Homo sapiens: one gene and its partners. The protein of the gene in region 2 interacts with the protein of the main gene of each other region in a biochemical or structural test. Each region holds a gene or a part of one and is shown on either strand. Other genes may lie near its edges. The genes, in order: TRIM59, MACROH2A1 and RNF168.

Evidence for each region.
Region 1: of the proteins of MACROH2A1 (region 2) and TRIM59, one has a biochemical effect on the other in vitro, tested with the Homo sapiens proteins (one study listed by BioGRID).
Region 3: of the proteins of MACROH2A1 (region 2) and RNF168, one has a biochemical effect on the other in vitro, tested with the Homo sapiens proteins (one study listed by BioGRID).

Annotation. Positions count from the first base shown.
Region 1 is NC_000003.12:160,439,787-160,446,786, forward strand, and holds part of TRIM59 (tripartite motif-containing protein 59), read right to left. Parts: intron 1-7,000. UniProt on the Homo sapiens protein: E3 ubiquitin ligase involved in different processes such as development and immune response. Serves as a negative regulator for innate immune signaling pathways by suppressing RLR-induced activation of IRF3/7 and NF-kappa-B via interaction with adapter ECSIT.
Region 2 is NC_000005.10:135,396,055-135,403,581, forward strand, and holds the start of MACROH2A1 (core histone macro-H2A.1), read right to left. Parts: upstream 3,178-7,527; 5' UTR 3,008-3,177; intron 1-3,007. UniProt on the Homo sapiens protein: Variant histone H2A which replaces conventional H2A in a subset of nucleosomes where it represses transcription. Nucleosomes wrap and compact DNA into chromatin, limiting DNA accessibility to the cellular machineries which require DNA as a template.
Region 3 is NC_000003.12:196,468,228-196,472,890, reverse strand, and holds the end of RNF168 (E3 ubiquitin-protein ligase RNF168), read left to right. Parts: intron 1-118; coding exon 119-1,072; 3' UTR 1,073-4,108; downstream 4,109-4,663. UniProt on the Homo sapiens protein: E3 ubiquitin-protein ligase required for accumulation of repair proteins to sites of DNA damage. Acts with UBE2N/UBC13 to amplify the RNF8-dependent histone ubiquitination.

The DNA of each region.
Region 1 (7,000 bases), on a different chromosome or scaffold from region 2:
CAGGTATGTCTTTATCAGCAGCATGAAAACAGACTAATACACTACATAATAAAGACTAAAATTCAAAGTGTTCTGTTAAAGTCTACTTAGTGATTACAACTATTTTGTGCAACATTTTAACATTTAAGATGATAAAATCAAAACCAAGCACATATAATGAGTAGACAAGACTATTTCTATTACAACAAGTTAGGCTTAGCAAAAGTATATTCTTTAACACAAAAGGAGGAAACATGTCCCAGTTGGCTCAATAATGGTTTCTAAAGCAAGCTATCAAATTTCTCCACAGTAACTGTTACTACCATAAATTTTTTAGCTTCTCAAATTAGAATACAAGAACGCTTAAACCCCAGGATCAGCATAGTATAATTCTCTAAAGCAATAATTTTAACTTGCAGATTTAGAAGACAGAAAAATTTTGAATTAATTCTTATAATAAAAATCAGTTTGAAAGATAAGAGTTGACTATAGTAACTGTGAATTAATTTTTAAGTGAAAAACTAGAGCACTAAATGGTAAAGAACAAAAAGAAGACCATTAGTCATCTTTCCTTCATGAAAGTCTCTCGATCCGTATTTCTCTGAGACAGAAAAAGAAACGTAGCGATAGTTCAGAGACCATCTCTGACACAAGTAACTTGACCTCTTGGCAAGCTACTACTGATATTTCCAGTAACAGAAGCCTGACCATTTTGCACCCTACCACCTCCTACTGCTTTCCTTTATACCTACCCTCAATGCATCAGCCACAATTCTAAAGACTAGCTTACCCCTTGATAGAGAAAAATCAAGTTATACCACTGTTGAAAGTACCTTAGGCAAAACTTAAAAACCCAAGTGCCATGGCCAGGCGCAGTGGTTCACGCATATAATCCCAGCACTTTGGGAGGCCGAGGCGGGCGGATCACCTGAGGTTGGGAGTTTGAGACCAGCCTGACCAACATGGAGAAACTCCATCTCTACTAAAAATACAAAATTAGCCCAGTGTGGTGTCAAATGCGTGTAATCCCAGCTACTTGGGAGGCTGAGACAGGAGAATTGCTTGAACTCAGTAGGTGGCGGTTGCAGTGAGCCAAGATTACACCACCGCACTCATCTGGACAACAAGAGCGAAACTCCGTCTCAAAAAAAATAAACACCCAAGTGCCATTCACGTAAAATATAAAGGTTACCAAATCACATGCTATAAAACTAACTTTTAAGATTAAAAATCTGTGAAAACAGCAACTAAAAGTAACTAACTGCATTTTTAATAAAATGCAAACTTGGCTCCTTATCTTTACGATCTGTCAAACTCTTAACTCTTCCTTCAAGGCTCAACTTGAGCCTGCCTTTTCCCCAGATTAGGTCCCCTGTTATTCTCATTAAACACTGCATTTTTACTTCATAGCACTTTAACAAGATTTTATTTAAGAATTTTGTAACTTTTCTGTATACATTAGAATGTAGGCCTCCTATAAGGGCAGGAATTGTGTCTAAACAATGGTTATATTCCTGCAATTTAGGCACAAATTTTAACACTGCAGGCATTCACTTGTTACTGCTTCAATGAACAAATGCCTTTTCAGAGACCTGTGTTAATACAGATTTTTGTTTTGGGGTTTTTTGTTTTTTGTTTTTTTAATAGCAAAATCTCTGCTTAGGAAAAGGTGTAAAACGAAAATCTATCAGAAAATACTCCATTCAGGCCAGGTGCGGGGGCTCACGCCTGTAATCTCCGCACTTTGGGAGGCCGAGGTGGGTGAATCATGAGGTCAGGTGATTGAGACCATCCTGCCTAACAGGGTGAAACCCCGTCTCTACTAAAAATACAAAAAAATTAGCCAGGTGTGGTGGTGGGCGCCTGTAGTCCCAGCCACTTGGGAGGCTAAGGCAGGAGAATGGCGTCAACCCGGGAGGCAGAGCTTGCAGTGAGCCAAGTTCACACCACTGCACACCAGCCTGGGCAACAGAGTGAGACTCCATCTCAAAAAAAAAAAAAAAAAAAGAAAAAAGAAAAAAAGCACTCCATTCAAACTGACAATATTCAGATCCCGAATGAGCCAAAGTGTGTCACACAGAGACTAAGCTTGAACTGTAGAGCATTCCAGCAAATTAAAGTAATTGAGCAACAGTAAAGAAGATGACATTCACTGCAGATAAATTCAAGTGAGTGCATGCTGGCAAGACTTTACAACTTTACCCTACACCTACAGAAAGCTATGAAGTCATACAGAAACCACCCAAGAAAAACAAATGTGTTTTTCAGAGTATTTCAGTGATGTCAGAATTCACATTGAAGGAATAAACAGAATAACACTTTGTAGGAAATAAAATTTGAGCAGTCGACGTACATTTAATCTAGATTTAATATTACTGGAGCTATTCAATTGTTTAAGTAGCAAAACTAGTCCTAAAACAGAATCTAACTTTTCTATCCAAACCCCTATTCTATGCTTGCAGAAAACTAGGGAACAACTCTGAGAATGCACTTAGGGGCCCAAAAGCTCAACTTTCTTTAGAATGAGAATATTCATGACATTGTAAAGCATATCCTAAGCTTATATAAAATGGAAGCAGGCCAAAGCAGGTGGATCACTTGAGGCAAGGAGTTTGAGACCAGCCTGGCCAACATGGTGAAACCCTGTATCTACTAAAAATACAAAAATTAGCCAGGCATGGTGGCGCACACCTGTAATCCCTATAATCCCAGCTACTCGGGAAGCTGAGGCATGAAATGGCGCAACTGCACTCCAGCCAGGGCAACAGAGCAAGACTCTGTCTCAAAAAAAGGAAAAAAAAAAAATAGGAAGCAAAAATCGTGGTTGGTCTCAAAGTTACTGCTATCATATGTAAAATTTTTAATAATACTTTTTAGACAAAAATTTGTGGATAACTTGAAGTTCACAGAAGTCAAAATCTATTCTCAGACTACCCTTTTCTCACTGATTTATTGATTAAAAACTAATTTTAGGCAACAAATTCAAGAGAAACTAGAACTGAAAAATAACTTTGTAAGGTCAGGAACTTTCTGACTCTGGTTGCTGCCTGAGAAGTAAACTATATAGGTGGGCCAGGTGCAGTGGTTCACACCTGTAATTCCAGCACTTTGGGAGGCCAAGGTGGGAAGATCACTTGAAGCCAGGAGTTCAAGACCAACCTGGGCAACACCAAGAGACCCCCATTCTCTACAAAAAATTAAACATTAGTCAGGCACAGTGATACACGCCTATAATCCCAGCTACGCGGGGAGCTGAGGCAGGAGGATCACTTGAGCCCAAGAAGTTGAGGCTGCAGTGAGCCACGACTGTGCCACTGCACTCCAGCCTAGGCAACAGAGCAAGACCCTGCCTTTTTTAGAAAAAAAAAAGATACAGGTGGCTACCATGCTTACAGGCTAGTTCTTTCAGAAACCAATATGAAATTTTATGCAGCAGAAATTTTCCACAACCAGTCTAGGCTTCTGAAAGGAAGAAAAAGAACAAAAAATTAACCTATGTATATTTTCTAGGATGAACATCTTGGATTTAGCTATGCTGTATGTAGGTTTCCAAACAGTAAAAACATCAGTAACACTGGAAACAATAAGACAATGGAGTAATGCCTTTGATATTCTCAGGGGAAAAAAAATGGCTTCTGAAATGGAAATTAAAACTCTATACCTAGAAAAAAAATAATCCATTTTTATATAAAGACAGTTGGACAATATAAGATCTCAAAAATGAACAACCTTCTTCCAACTCTTTCTAAAGAAGCTACTGCAGGGAGAAAAGAAAAGCAAGAATGTTCGCCAGCATAATGGCGAAATGAAGTCCAGGACAACTGTGAAAGCCTAGGGAAGAGTCACTCTAGAAGAGGAAGAAAGATCCAAAAGACAGATCTTTTTTTTTTTGAAACAGAGTCTCGCTCTGTCGCCCAGGCTGGAGTGCAGTGGCCGCTATCTCCTCTCACTGCAAGCTCCGCCTCCTGGGTTCATGCCATTCTCCTGCCTCAGCTTCCCGAGCAGCTAGGACTACAGGCGCCCGCCACCACGCCCAGCTAATTTTTTTGTATTTTTAGTAGAGATGGGGTTTCACCATGATAGCCAGGTTGGTCTCAATCTCCTGACCTCATGATCCACCTGCCTCGACCTCCCAAAGTGCTGTGATTTCAGGCATGCAGAAGACAGATCTTTAAGTAAATAAATGGAACTGACAGAAATGCTTCATGTATATGAAACATATTGAGAGGTAACTAAATTTAGGGAAAAAACGTGATAGAATCATGAAAAGAGAGGAAATATTAATATTATAGTATATGGCTCAGCTGTCACTGTAACAGTCATAATATTGTAAATATCAAATACTGATTTTACCAAAGAGTAACAAAATTATATTGAGGGGGAAAATAAGGGAAGGAAACAGTTTAAGAACTAAATCTTAATTTTTCCTTATAAGAAAGTCAATACATACTTAAAAAATAACCCACAAAAAATAAATATCTAGAAATATAAAAGAAAATACCAAAAGAAATGTTAAAGCAGATAAAAGTGATGGCTTCTAGAGGGAAAGAATCTGTTTTTCATTATAAATCATGGTTTCGCTTTTAACTATTAAGCAATTAAAAATATAATACAATTTTAAAGAAATAAGAACAATTCTACAAGTATCCACACAGAAAAGAAGGATGAAAAAAGGAAAACTAAACCAAAGGTCTCAGAATCCTCCTCTGGGAGACTGGAATTTCCAAAATTGGAATGGCCACAATAATTATCTCCCACATGAGCTGTCCTATAATGTGACTTTGCTGCTACTCCCTGCACATGGAGATGAAATCTATTCTCCCCCATTAGAATATGTGTGGGCCATGTGACTGTTCTGACCAATAGGATACAGTATAAGTGATGTGGTGAGTTCTAGGTATAGCCCTTAACTAGTTTGGCAGGTTGCTGCCTCGGAGCCACAAACTGCTATGTAAGAAGTCCAGGCTACTTTGCTGAAGAGACAGGCCAAATAGAAGGGCAAGGAGTTTCCAGACACATGAGTGAAAAAGACATCTTGAATATCTGGCCAGCCAAGCTTTCAGATGTTTGTTACACAGCAGGAAATAACCAGAACATCACCAGCAACAAGGAATGCTAGAACAGAATGTAGCAATGTCCACAAAGACTAGAAGGAAAGGGATATGAGCTGAGAATTCTGTACACAGCCACGACATAATTTATTCATGTGAAACAACAGAAATACTCTTCAGTAAAATCTACAGAGCTAAAAAAAAATTACATGGGCAGAGCTGACACCATACACTTTACTTACCAAACCAAAAGGAATATAAAATAATTCAACTAAAAAAAAAAAAGAGGAAAAGTGGAAAAAAAAGAATAAAAATTGGCCTGGTGTAATGGCTCATACCTGTAATCCCAGCACTGTGGAAGGCCAAGGTGGGAGGATCACTTGAGCCCAGCAATTCGAGACCAGCCCTGGCAACACAGTGAAACCCCATCTCTACAAAAAATAAAAAACTTAGCTAAGTATGGTGGCGCACGCCTGTTAGTCCCAGCTACTCAGGAGGCTGAGGAGGGAGGATTGCTTGAGCCTGGGAGGTCCAGGCTGCAATGAGCCATGAGCCACGGTCGTTCCACTGCATTCCAGCCTAGACTACAGAGCCACACTTTGTCTCAAAAAATAAAAAAAGAATAAAGATAAATGGAAGATGATAATGAACTAGAAAACTTAAATTGCTAGAACTGGCTGGGCACTGTGGCTCACACCTGCAATCCCAGCACCTTGGGAGGCCGAGACAGGCGGACCACCTGAAGTCAGGAGTTCAAGACCAGCCTAGCCAACATGACAAAACCCCATCTCTACTAAAAATACAAAAATTAGCTGGGCAGGGTGACAGACGCCTATAATCCCAGCTACTCGGGAGGCTGAGGCAGGAGAATCGCTTAAACCTGGGAGGCGGAGATTGCAGTGAGCTGAGATCATGCCACTGCACTCCAGTCTGGGTGACAGAGCAAGACTCTGTCTCAAAAAAAAAAAAAAAAAAAAATTGCTAGAACTGATAAACCCAAGAGATGGCTCTTTTTGAGACTGAGTCTTGCTCTGTCACCAGGGCTGGAATGCAGTGGTGTGACCATGGCTCACTGCAGCCTCAACTTCCCAGGCTCAAACAATCCTCCCAGCTCAGCCTCCCAAGTAGCTGATAGGTGCATGTTAACACACATGCCTAATGTTTTTATGCTTTGTAGAGATAGGGTCTCACTACGTTGCCCAGGCTGGTCTCAAACCCCTAGCCTCAAGACATCCTTCCCCCCTCAGCCTCCCAAAGTGCTGAGATTACAGCTGTGAGCCACCATGACCAGTCTAAGAATTGGTTCTTTAAGTAAATAAACAAGCCATTAGCTATCTGTGATAGGTAGCCTCTAAAATGGCCCCCAATGACCTACACTTTCTGGATACTCTTGAAATCTCCTCTCCCTTGAGTGTGGACTAGGCCCTACTCAACTGTTCCAGAATACAAATATGAAAAGTTTGCTAAATATTTTGAAGACAGTATAACATGATTCCAAAACCTGAGACAATACAAACTAAAAATGGACTAATTTCAAAAATGGACACTGATGTAAAATTCTAAATACAATGTTAGCAAAAACAAACACAGGAGTACATTAAAAAAAACACTGTACCATGACTAAATAAGGTTCTTTCCAGAAATACAAAGTTAATTCAATAACGAAAAATCTATTAATATAATTCAGTCAATTAGTTCAATGGAAAAAAAATTTACATTCACATTATATGTGAAAAAAGCATATAATATATATAATATCAAAACCAATAAGCAGTCCTCAAAGACAGAAAGTAGAATGGTAGTTGCCAGGGCTTGAGAGCAGGGAAGATGTAGAGTTATCATTTAATGCAGGGGTCCTCAACCCTTCCTACCCACCCTGCGCCCCCACCATGGTGGCGGGCAAGCCCACCTGAGCTCCGCCTCGAGCCCACCTGAGCTCCGCCTCCTGCCAGTGTCAGCATTAGATTCTC
Region 2 (7,527 bases):
CTCTGCAAACCCATTCGGTGATGCGCTTCCCGAGATGCACTGAAGGAACTGTGCAGCTTGCTACATTTTAACAGCAAGTTACTGCCTGCCTGCTTTACAAAAAAACTTTTCTACATACTCCTCTCTCTTTTAAAGGTTGTGCCAAACTCTTAAGATAACCAGTCTCACGGAAGGCTATTTAGAGAAAAGTTAAAGTGTGGGCTTCACAGGACAGGACTCTGATAAGGCTTAGCATGTAGAATCCACTCATTATTTGCCGAGTAGACGTGTTCCCAATAAGAATAAAAAGAACACCTGATCCTGTCTCTCTCCTGCTCAAAACCCTTCAGTTGCTCTTAGGATAAAGTGTGGGTCTGACCAGAATCCTTTGTGATTTGTCCTGTTTGTCCCTCCCTGAAGCCTCACCTGACTCCGCACCAGGACTCAGCCATCCCGAGCCTCTGGCAGTTCCCCACATGACCTCTGTTCTTTTCTTCTAAGATGCACACATGGGGTTCCCCAGGCCTCAAACACTTGTCCCCATCTGCCCTCCTTTGCCCAGCCATCTCCTGCTTGACCTTTCCAAGCCAGATAAGGGCTCACTCCTGGCTAGGTTACTGTACCTGCTGGGGGGCTACGTGGGGCCTTTTGCACTGATTTTACAACAGCTACTTGCCTGCCTTCTCCCAAAGTCAGCTCCCCCAAGGTAGGGGCTAGGCATTTCTTAATCACGGCTGTGTCCCCAGTGCCTGAACAGGAGCTGATTCTCAGGAAATCTTTATGGAAAGACTCTGAGACACTGACCTGACAGGTTTGGTCCAAGCAAACAAGCTATACAACTCTTTGGAATGAAGAGTTGACTCACTCAGGCTCACTTGTAAGCACTGAGGCAGGGCCCAAAAGACCTCTAAACCTACAGAATATGGGAAGGACCCACAGAGATCTGGGCCCCAATCACTCCTGCCCCTTCCCAGCCCATGTTCTAGGAATGGGGCTCTGAAAAGGCTGTCACAAATCCTTGGGGACACTCAAATAAAACCAGAGGCTGTTGCAGTTCTGATGAACAACACATATAGAGTCTTGTTGGGTTCTTCGGCTTGAGGTTTTCAGTTTATGCTTTTATTTAAATAAATCTCCTTTAGGTGACTTGGGGCCGCATTAGCTCTGAAGGCAGGTCCCAGAACACATGCCCTCTGAGCTTCTCAGTGGGGAAGGAATGCGAGGCGCTCCTCAAGTTCGCCTCTCTCAGGGACCAGAAGAAACATCAGATGGAGATGTGTCACTCCCTGACACTGGCCCATTTGGTAAAAACTAAACCAGTGGCATGGTTGTATACTAGAATGTCACATGTGAAGTTCCAGACAATTCTTAAAGTTTAATAAAATGTGAGTTAAATTATGCCTCCTTCTAAAGGCCTGCCTCAAACAATTTTCATTTAGACAACCCTCTTAATGCCTTATCTAGGGATCAGCATTAACAATGGTGACAGATCGAAGCCAAAGAACAGACTGGAAAGATTTCTCTCTCCTTGTAAAACTAGAAGGGGGAAGAATTTGAAGTCTTTCAAGAGTTTTGTTGTGTTTAAGAAAAAATAAGTTTGAAAACATACTCATCCTCATCAGAGAGTCTCTTGTGCAAGACTGAGATGCTGCTGCCCAACTCTAGTTAAATGTGTACAATGGGTATTAATTCCAGTTGCAGGCAAGAGGTGTCCATTTCAGAGTTAACACCTCTGACAACAGGCTAGTAGCCTAAAGGTGGCCTGCAGTAGGTGAATTCCACCTAATTTACAACTCGAGTCTCCCATTCAAACCTAAGACTGTTAAAAAATGCCCGACTCCCTGGAGCAGGGAGCTTTGGAACAAAACACTTCCCTTACCCCCTACTTTAACGGTAAAACCTCAAACCACAAAGGTGGAAGAAAAGAGGGAAGCTAGCAGGAGTGCCCCCTCTAATTGTCTATTCTTATGTGCTGTTTACTGGGTCATTAAAATCTTACAAGGCCTTTATAGTCATTGTAATTGTTGAATTCAAGGTTTGTCCCAGTTGTTTGTACAGAAGTCTCTCACTTTGAAACTCAGAAACATTTCCCCTAACATCTTGTCTAAAAGAACCTTTCAAGCAATGTACTGACCAACTCCTTGAGTGATCTGTGGCCCCTGCAGGAGTGGGGGTAGGGAGCGCCATGTCGCACACCTGTTGTCAGGTGACACTGCCAGCAGCATCCTGCACACTCACCTCCCCACTCCACCCCACCCCCAGCGAGGCTCTTTCCTGCTGGCCTTCTCCACCCGGGGAAGCCTACAGCCTTCCGGAGTTACCTTTTAAAAAAAGCAAACCCTTCCTACCACAAAGCAAACAAAAGGCTGATACCGAGACAATCGGGAGCAGCGGGGGTTCCCGTGGCCCCTCTCCAGCCCATCCTTGGACCACTCCCCAACCCGGTCCCCCGCACCAGCCCGGCTTCAATCCCGCGAGTAGCCCCCGCCTTCCCCTCCCTGCAGATAGCGAGCCAGACGCCTACACCTCGGCCCCCCGGGGCTCGGGCCCGACTTATTGTGCCGGGGCCGGCAACTCGCGGGCCGGCGGGGGCCTCACCAAGTACAACTCTGCTCACAGCAGCTCCCGGGTGCCCAGGCCCAGACTGCCTAGCCAGCGCCGCGGGGCCTCCTGCGGCCTCGGGCCTGGCCCGTGAGCCCGCCCCAGGAAGGGTCGCCAGGGTAGGCGCCAGCACCGCTTTTTTCCCACAAAAGCGCCCAGGCGCGGGCAGGGGGATGCGTTTCGAAGAGAAGTTGGTTTCCAGGTTTCTTTTTTGAACAAAACCAAAGGGAATCCCGCGCGGCCCGACAAGGCCTGGGAGGACGTAGTGCACGCGCGAGGACCCGGCGTGGGCCACACCGAACCCGGCGGCCCGAGCCCGGCCCGCACCACACCGGTGCGCGCCAGGCCGGGCCGCTCCCGGGCACCCGCGGCCGGACCCGAGCGGCGGGGACAGGGAGTGCGGCAAGGGGGCCCGCGCGGCACTTACGCGGCGGCTCGGTGGCGGCGGCGGCAGCTGCAAGGTGTCTCGGCCTGAGCCCTCCTGGCCGCTCGCGCCTTTTCTCTCCGCGCTCCTCGCTGGCCCGCCCGCCTCTTCGCTTCCCGCCCGCGCGGCCCGCGCTCTCCCCCTCCGCCCGGCGCCGCTGCCGAGTGAACTGGAACCAGTCCTCGCGGCCGGCTTCCCACAATGCACAGCGCGCCGCTCGTCACATCCCTTCGCGGCCCCGAGCGTCCGGCCTCCGCGCCCGTGCCGCCCGGCGCCCCGGCCTTGACCCCGGGCCCGCGCCCTACCCGTTGACGCCGGCCGCTCTGCGCCCAGGCACCAGCCCGCACCCCGGACGCGAGGTCTGACCCATGACCCCGGGGACGCCCAGAGCCCAGTCCTTGGGAAGGGCCAGGCCCCTGGAGAGGAGCTTCTTCAGGGCGCGTCCCAGACTCTGCGTCTCGAGTGAACGCCTACTGTGTGCCTGGCTCTGAGCACGGGACTGTCGCTGCCACGGCATCTTTAGGAACCTTCCCACTAACCCAGTGGGAAGGCACAATGGCTGTTACCAGCGATCGCTCTTCCCTCCCCAGTCAATGCCAACTCCCCCCTGCCCCGCCTCAGAGACCCCGCTGTCTTTAGATACAGGCCACCGCCAAGCCCTGGTCTGCCCCAAGATCAATTACTGCGCACCCGGTTCCCCTGGGGTCCTTCAGTTAATCCTCCTCACCCCGAAGTCTGGAACCTGCCTTGCACATGGAAGCGGTTAGCTACTTCGCTTCAGCAAAAGTTCACTTTCGGACCCAAGTTGGGAATTACTAATGTAGACAGTGATTCCTTATCATCACACACGTTTTTTAAAAACTGCGGACAGGCCGAAAGAGGAGGAGCCGCCACAAAGCCCGCCACGTCTTCCTAAATTGGTTTACCGCCTGAAGGCATTGGTGCCCCATCCCGGGTACTTAAATGGGGGCCTGCCCTCTACTCCCCTCCCTCCAAAGTGTGGAGCCGGAAGCCACTTCTCCATCCAGCTGTGAACTAAATTTGGATAATAATACACATCCCTCAGGGTTGATGTGAAGTTTAAAGTGCCGCTACTGGGGATTATGGAGGTAATTAGAGACCCCCACCCCCACCCCCCAGTCCTCAGGCTGCGCGGGAATCGCAGCGGCAGTAACCTCCACCTCACCGGGATGCTTTACACCTTACTTTAAGAGTTTGCAAAACAATGTCCAATACCTGCCATTCATGCATTCGTTAATTCGATTAAGTACTGAGAACGTATTTTGTGTCATACATCGATTTGGGTGCTGGATATGAAACAGCCAAGAGAACAGGCAGAAATCTCTGCCCTCCTGTAGTTTGCAGTCTCGTGGGGGAAAGACAGACAAACGGGAGAATGTGTCAGAGGGTCTCCATGGGGTGGAGAAAAATAAGGCGGAGAAGGGGAATAGGAAGTGTGAGATAAGAGTGAGGCTCAAATACAAGAGAAGGCCTCTATGAGAAAGTAACATTTAAAGCCTGAAGAAATTGAGGGAGCAAGCCGTGTGGATGTCTGGGGAAGAACTGCGCCGAGCATGAGGAATAGCAAGTGCAAAGGCTGGGGTAGGAGTGTGTCCAAAATAGTCAAGACAGAGCGAGTGTGAGGTTGGAGTAGAATGGGTGAAGGGGAAAGTAACAGGAGATGAAGCTGGAAAAATGATGATGCTTATGATGCTTCTGGTCCCAAAACAAAGCATTATGGTTCTATGAGGATCTCCCGAAGAAAAGATGTCAGGAAAGGTGCAGAGACCCTCCCCCACACACCACATTGTTGTTCCATCCTTCTCTGTGCCTTTGGGCAAGGACTCTCCGTTCTGTAGGGACCACCAGGTGGAATTAAAGTCTACACTCCTCCAAGAGCTGATCTTGGGGCGGCCCCACCTCCATGCCCCTCTACAGCGTGCCATTCTCATAGAACACACTAGGACCTTTGTCCTCTGGAGCTGTTCAGTGCAGCAGCTCTGACCTCATCCTTCTCCAGAAGCCTCCACCTTCTCTCCCCTCTCTCCTCCTGCGCTTTGTGTGTCCTGTTCTTCCACTTCGGTGACCTGTCTCCTCCCCTAATCTGGCTCAGAGAGGGGTACCAGCTGCTGCTGCTGCTATTGCTTCTTCTTCTGTTAAAGGTTTTTTATTTTTTTCCAATGACAAAGCTATGCTCATTCTGAAAACATGAAAAATAAAAATGCTCAAAAAATAAAACTCACTCTACATTCATTGCTAGGAGAGAACAGCCTGCTCCCATTCCAGCCTTTTTATCTATATCCACTTAACATTAAACATACAGAGTTTCTACTCTATTTAGTGATTGTCACCTGCACTTTAAACTTAATGGTTCTTTATGAGCATTTTACTGGGTAGTTGTTCTACAATAACATTACTGGAACTGTTTGGGTTTCCCTTGACCCTCTTAAAAATTACTGAGAACCCTGAAGAGCTTTTGTTTTATAGGTTACATCTATCAATATTTGCTTTATTAGAAATAAAAACTGAGAAAAAGTAAATATTTATTAATTTATTTTAAAAATGTTAACATGGAAAGAAATTATATTACATAAATAATGTATTTTAGAAAAATAATTATACTTTCCAAACAAAAATAATTAGTGGGAAGAGTGGCATTGTTTTACAGTTTTGCACGGCTCTTGAATGTCTGGTGTAATAGAAGATAGCTGGTTTCATGCCTCCTCCTGCATTCAGTCGGTCACTATATGTTGTTTTGTTTGAAGTATGTGAAGAAAATTCAGCCTTATGTAGATATGTATATGGGAAAGAATAGAGGATTTTAATCGCCTTTTCAGATAATTACAGATGTTCTTTTTTCATACCACACCAAAATGCAAGGAGTCGTTTCTTAAAGGTTAAGTGCAATGTAGAACCTGAAAAAAAAAATCAATAAACTTTTGAACTCAGTTAATACATTAAAATCCATTGGCCTATTTTATATCTTGACTGGGTCCTTTAGCTATGCATAATTTGGTAAAATCATACATTGATCATTTGGGAAATATCAGTTCACTGATTTATACGGATCTTACAAATGTAAACACATTTCATTGTACAATATTAGAAAATCACATCTATTAATAGCACCACTGATCTCATCTGAAGGTTTTTGAGTATTGGGAAGTTGTCAAGCTCTTGGTGGCAGATACGAGTTTCCCAAAATTGTAATTTCTGCTTGAAAGCTCAAGTTTATCACTGACAACATAATGTCACAGTGATTTTCCTAGAAATGACAGGTTCATTTCATTCATTTTCAAGAAAATGTCTACCACAAACAAAGGACCACATTATGACTTTCATGGGCCATAGGCATTTTTGCCTGCATGGGCCCTTTCCTCCACTAAAAAGACAACTGCACTGGTATAAAGACAAATAAATTAATATTGTATATTAAAACTGTGCCTCGTGGAGTATTCAGCCCTACGTACACCCAATTCTGAATACCCATAGTTTGTCTGTCAGGTGTAGCTTCTCCATTAGAAACAGTACTCAGGCCCCCAGGACTTTATGGGCCCACGAAAATGTCTTAATTTCTTTTAAAATCAGAAGAAAATGAAAGTTAGTTCTTTTATATTGAAGAAAATATTTTAATATATAATGTTAATATATTTGTCTTTCTACGAACACGGTTGTAAAATTTTTTTTCTATTGTTTTATAGAAGAAGGGACTCATGAAGGTAAAAGTGCCTAGGGCCATGAAAGTGTAATGCAGCCTTGCTGTCAGCCCTTGTTTCAAGAAAAGCTAGTGTTCCATGAGAAAAGCAGCTAGTTTAACTCACAGCTCAATTGCACACGTGCTTCTCCTCAAGATGACCATCCTAGTAGAAATGCTGTATGCGTACTTCCCATTTGGTCACGTGGAATATTTTAAAATGTGTTCCAAAGGGTCAGATTTAATAAAATTAATGCTTTTTACTGTTTCATCAGGACATTCTTAAGTTAAACTGGCTCTCTTTTTTTTTTTTTTTTTTTTTTTTTGGCTGTGAGTGCTTCATAATAAATAATAAAATGATGATGAGTATGGGATGATGCCATTGCTGATTTGTGGTAAGTCGCCAGCAGTTTTATCCACTACTGTTCTTGCACCATTTGTGCAAAGATCAACACAGGGAAAAGTCAAATAATGTCTTAATGTTAACATGAAAATAGTTGTGACTTTTTGTACCTCCAGGAAGGGTCTCAGTGACCTTCGGGGGACTGCAGACTACATTTTGAGAACTACTGCTTCACAATATCCACAAGCTTGGCCATCGTTAATTTAACCAACTCCTTATTTTTTCTTCTTTCAGGCTGTTTCCAACTCTATTATAAAGATGTTATGAATATTTTTAAAGATTGGCCAGGCGCAGTGGCCCACGCCTATTACCCCAGCACTCTGTCAGGCCAAGGTGGGCAAATCCCTTGAGGTCAGGAGTTTGAGACCAGCCTGGCTAACATGGTGAAACCCCATCTCTACTAAAAATACAAAAATTAGCTGGGCG
Region 3 (4,663 bases), on a different chromosome or scaffold from region 2:
CTTATTAGTAATAATAATGTATAGTGACAGTCCAGCTGTAGTATCAGTGTAATTAGACTTACATCTTATGATTTGATATTTTCCCCTGGTTCACTCAGTCTTTTTCTGTTTTCTACAGGACATTGACAGTAGTGATAGGAAAAGCCCAACAGGGCAAGACACAGAAATAGAAGATATGCCGACACTTTCTCCACAGATATCCCTTGGAGTTGGAGAACAAGGTGCAGATTCTTCAATAGAGTCCCCTATGCCATGGTTATGTGCCTGTGGTGCCGAATGGTACCATGAAGGAAACGTCAAAACAAGACCAAGCAATCATGGGAAAGAGTTATGTGTCTTAAGTCACGAGCGACCTAAAACCAGAGTTCCCTACTCGAAAGAAACTGCAGTTATGCCTTGTGGCAGAACAGAAAGTGGGTGCGCCCCCACATCAGGGGTGACACAGACAAATGGAAACAACACAGGTGAGACAGAAAATGAAGAGTCGTGCCTACTGATCAGTAAGGAGATTTCCAAAAGAAAAAACCAAGAATCTTCCTTTGAAGCAGTCAAGGATCCATGCTTTTCTGCAAAAAGAAGAAAAGTGTCCCCCGAATCTTCCCCAGATCAAGAGGAAACAGAAATAAACTTTACCCAAAAACTGATAGATTTGGAGCATCTACTGTTTGAGAGACATAAACAAGAAGAACAGGACAGGTTATTGGCATTACAACTTCAGAAGGAGGTGGATAAAGAGCAAATGGTGCCAAACCGGCAAAAAGGATCCCCAGATGAGTATCACTTACGCGCTACATCCTCCCCTCCAGACAAAGTGCTAAATGGACAGAGGAAGAATCCCAAAGATGGGAACTTCAAAAGGCAAACTCACACAAAGCATCCAACACCAGAGAGAGGCTCAAGGGACAAAAATAGGCAAGTGTCTTTAAAGATGCAGTTGAAGCAGTCAGTTAATAGAAGAAAGATGCCAAATTCTACTAGAGATCACTGTAAGGTATCCAAAAGTGCTCACTCCCTACAGCCTAGCATTTCACAGAAAAGTGTTTTTCAGATGTTTCAGAGATGCACAAAGTAAGGCCTGGTAAAGGGAGTGCTTTGTGATCTAGTAAAGCTGGAATGTGAAGCTCTTTCCTATCATGGAATCTTCATCCATGTGTCATTCATGCTGCTCTCTAGGCACACTCATTGTCCTTAATGAAGGTCTGTGTGATTGTAAGGACTGCATAGACACATGAGCTTCTGCACAGCTCAGCGGTAAGCAGGGGTCCCCTGTCGTTTCCCTTCTTAATAACAGATGTGTATTAAGCTTTACAATTCTTAGAGATATCTTAAGCTTTGGCCAACTCCAGGAAATCTTCAAGTGCCATTGTCTTTCCAAAAACTGCATGTTTTATGGCCTTTGCTCACCTTTTTGTCGTGACTGGTAATCAAAGCAAGATTATACTATTCTGAGTGATTAAGGAACCCATGCAGGGTTTAAAATCCATTTTCTTGCTATTGTCCAATGTTTACAGAGTACTCAAAAGGTTTTCCTAAAGTAATCTAATTTCCATCTCCAATTTAATTCAATTTTCAGCATTGTAGCATTTCCTTTGGTGTTTGTTTTTTTTTTTTAGACGGAGTTTCAAAATTTGGATTCATATTCATATGTGGGAAATCCCAGATTTTTTTTTTTTTTTTTTTTTTTTTTTTTTTTTGGAGACAGAGTCTTGCTCTGTCACGCAGGCTGGTGTGCAATGGCGCGATCTCAGCTCACTGCAACCTCCGCCTCCCGAGTTCAAGCGATTCTTCTGCCTCAGCCTCCCGAGTAGCTGGGATCATAGGCATGTGCCACTACACCCAGCTACCCAGCTAATTTTTTTTTTTTTTTGTACTTTTAGTAGAGATGGGATTTCACCATGTTGGCCAGGCTGGTCTTGAACTCCTGTCCTCAGGTGATCCACCTGCTTCGGCCTCCCAGAGTGCTGGGATTATAGGCGTGAGCCACCACGCCCGGCCTGTTTCCTTTGGTTTAAAGTGGATTCGAATCAGTGTTAAATCAGAAAATCAGGGTTTTCTAGGAAATTGGGAATTAGTTGCCAGAAAGGAAACTGAACTATGCAGAAGGAGTTAAGAGCTGGGATGAGGCTGGATGGGGTGACTGACAGTCCAGATCATTGAAACAGATTGGGTCGTCGGAAACTGGTCCAGATGAGGCTGGATGGGGTGACTGACAGTCTGGATCATTGAAACTGATTAGGTCGTCAGAAACGGGTCCAGACGAGGATGAGGCTGAGGCTGGATGGGGTGACTGACAGTCTGGATCATTGAAACTGATTGGGTGGTTGGTCAGAAACGGGTCCAGATGAGGATGAGGCTGAGGCTGGATGGGGTGACTGACAGTCTGGATCATTGAAACTGATTGGGTGGTTGGTCAGAAACGGGTCCAGATGAGGATGAGGCTGGATGGGGTGACTGACAGTCTGGATCATTGAAACTGATTGGGTCGTCAGAAACTGGTCCAGATGAGGCTGGGTGGGGTGACTGACAGTTTGGATCATTGAAACTGATTGGGTGGTCAGAAACTGGTCCAGATGAGGATGTGGCTGGATGGGGTGACTGACAGTCTGGATCATTGAAACTGATTGGGTGGTCAGAAACTGGTCCAGATGAGGATGTGGCTGGATGGGGTGACTGACAGTCTGGATCATTGAAACTGATTGGGTGGTGAGAAATGGGTCCAGATGAGGATGAGGCTGGATGGGGTGACTGACAGTCTGGATCATTGAAACTGATTGGGTGGTGAGAAATGGGTCCAGATGAGGATGAGGCTGGATGGGGTGACTGACAGTCTGGATCATTGAAACTGGTCCACTATGACGCAGCAGGGGCAGTTTGGCAGAGCATCCTCTTCCCTTGTCCTTGTGAAAGAACACAGGAAACATTTGGGTTTTACAGCTTTTCACACCCTACTATCAGGCATCAGAATCAAAATTAGTTACTAAATTGGGTGAATTTTTGGAAACCTGCATTTCTATGCATCTGCTATTCCAGAAAAAAATGGGAATGTATTACAGGAGAGTTACCTCACAGTGTCTTATGTTGTGGAACCTGAAACATAACCACGTGTTTTCTTATATGATCATTTGTGTTGATACTGCTTTTATTTGAGTTTATGAACAGAAATAGAAAGTATGGTGCTTGGGTTTTGCCCTTTCTTACTCCTGAAAGTTAAATCAGAAGACACTGATTTCATTTTGTGAAATTTAGCTCAGAGACTATTGATCTTTTGTTTCATTAATATGAACAACTATTAGTAAAAAATAGCTTTAACAGCATTTCTGCTGATATCTAGTAATCTATTCTTTTAATGTGAAAATAAGATAAAATGTCCTGGAGCTAATTCTAGCTTAAATTTGCCAGTATTTCTGTATGTCATTAAGTTTTTTTCCTCTAAGGTTGGTAATAGAATTTTGTTAATCTTTGCATACCTGATGGCATCTATGTCAATGCTGATTGGGTAATTATAAATTCTGTGCTAATTTAAAACTTAATTTGCCTCTTAAGGTGATTGTCCTCTGAGTAATGATTGTAGTTAAATGAAGTATAGCTTGCAACTATACTATCACATGGGTCGTTAAGTAAAAATAAATAAACCAAATTTGTCTGAGACAGGCTAAGATCAATCTTCTCATCAAACCAATTTTTCTCTAAGAGCAATTTCACTTTCAGTTTTAGGGTGGACATTCTTGAATGCCTCAAATTAAACGTTATCTATTTAATCTTCCTGGAATAGTCTGTGACCAAAAAGGAGGGTGTGATATATTTAGGTGTAAATATATCACATATATGGTGTGATATATTTGGGATTTATATATTCAGCTCATTCTCTGTGAAGAAGTCTTCCTGACTAAAATTGGTTTCAAGATAAACTAATTTCTGTTAGTATTTCTACTCTGCCTACCATGTATGCCTTTTTGTTAGAAACTAATAAATGTATCAGTCACTAGCAGGTACTGGTCCTTTTTCCTCTCATTTTTGTGGAAAGGATATGCAAACACTGAATTTCTCAGGGAGTACTAAGGCTGTGCAGAGGCTGAGAATCTGAAAAATAAAATACTAAAAATAAAAATGGATTATTATGTGTATTTTACCACAACTTAAAAATATGTAAAAATCAGCTACATGAAAATTAAAAGTTCTGCATAACAAAAACTACCATCAAGGGAAATTGGAAGCTGTGGCAAACTTGGGAAGAAATAGTTGCAGTTCATCACAAAGAGCTAATTTCCTTTATGTAAAGTATCCTCCAGTTCATTAAGAAAAGACCAATAACTCGGCCGTGCATGGTGGCTCACACCTGTAATCCCAGCACTTTGGGAGGCCGAGGCAGGCAGATCACCTGAAGTCAGGAGTTTGAAACCAGCCTGGCCAACATGGGGAAACGCCGTCTCTACTAAAAATACAAAAATTAGCCGGGTGTGGTGGCGTGTGCCTGTAATCCCAACTATTCGGGAGGCTGAGACAGAGAATTGCTTGAACCCAGGAGGCGGAAGTTGCAGTGAGCCAAGATTGTGCCACTGCACTCCAGCCTGGGTGACAGACTGGAGACTCCGTCTCAAAAAAAAAAAAAAAAGAAAAAAAAGAAAAGTCCTCAATAGGAGAACTAGAAATGCGTATGTTCCCA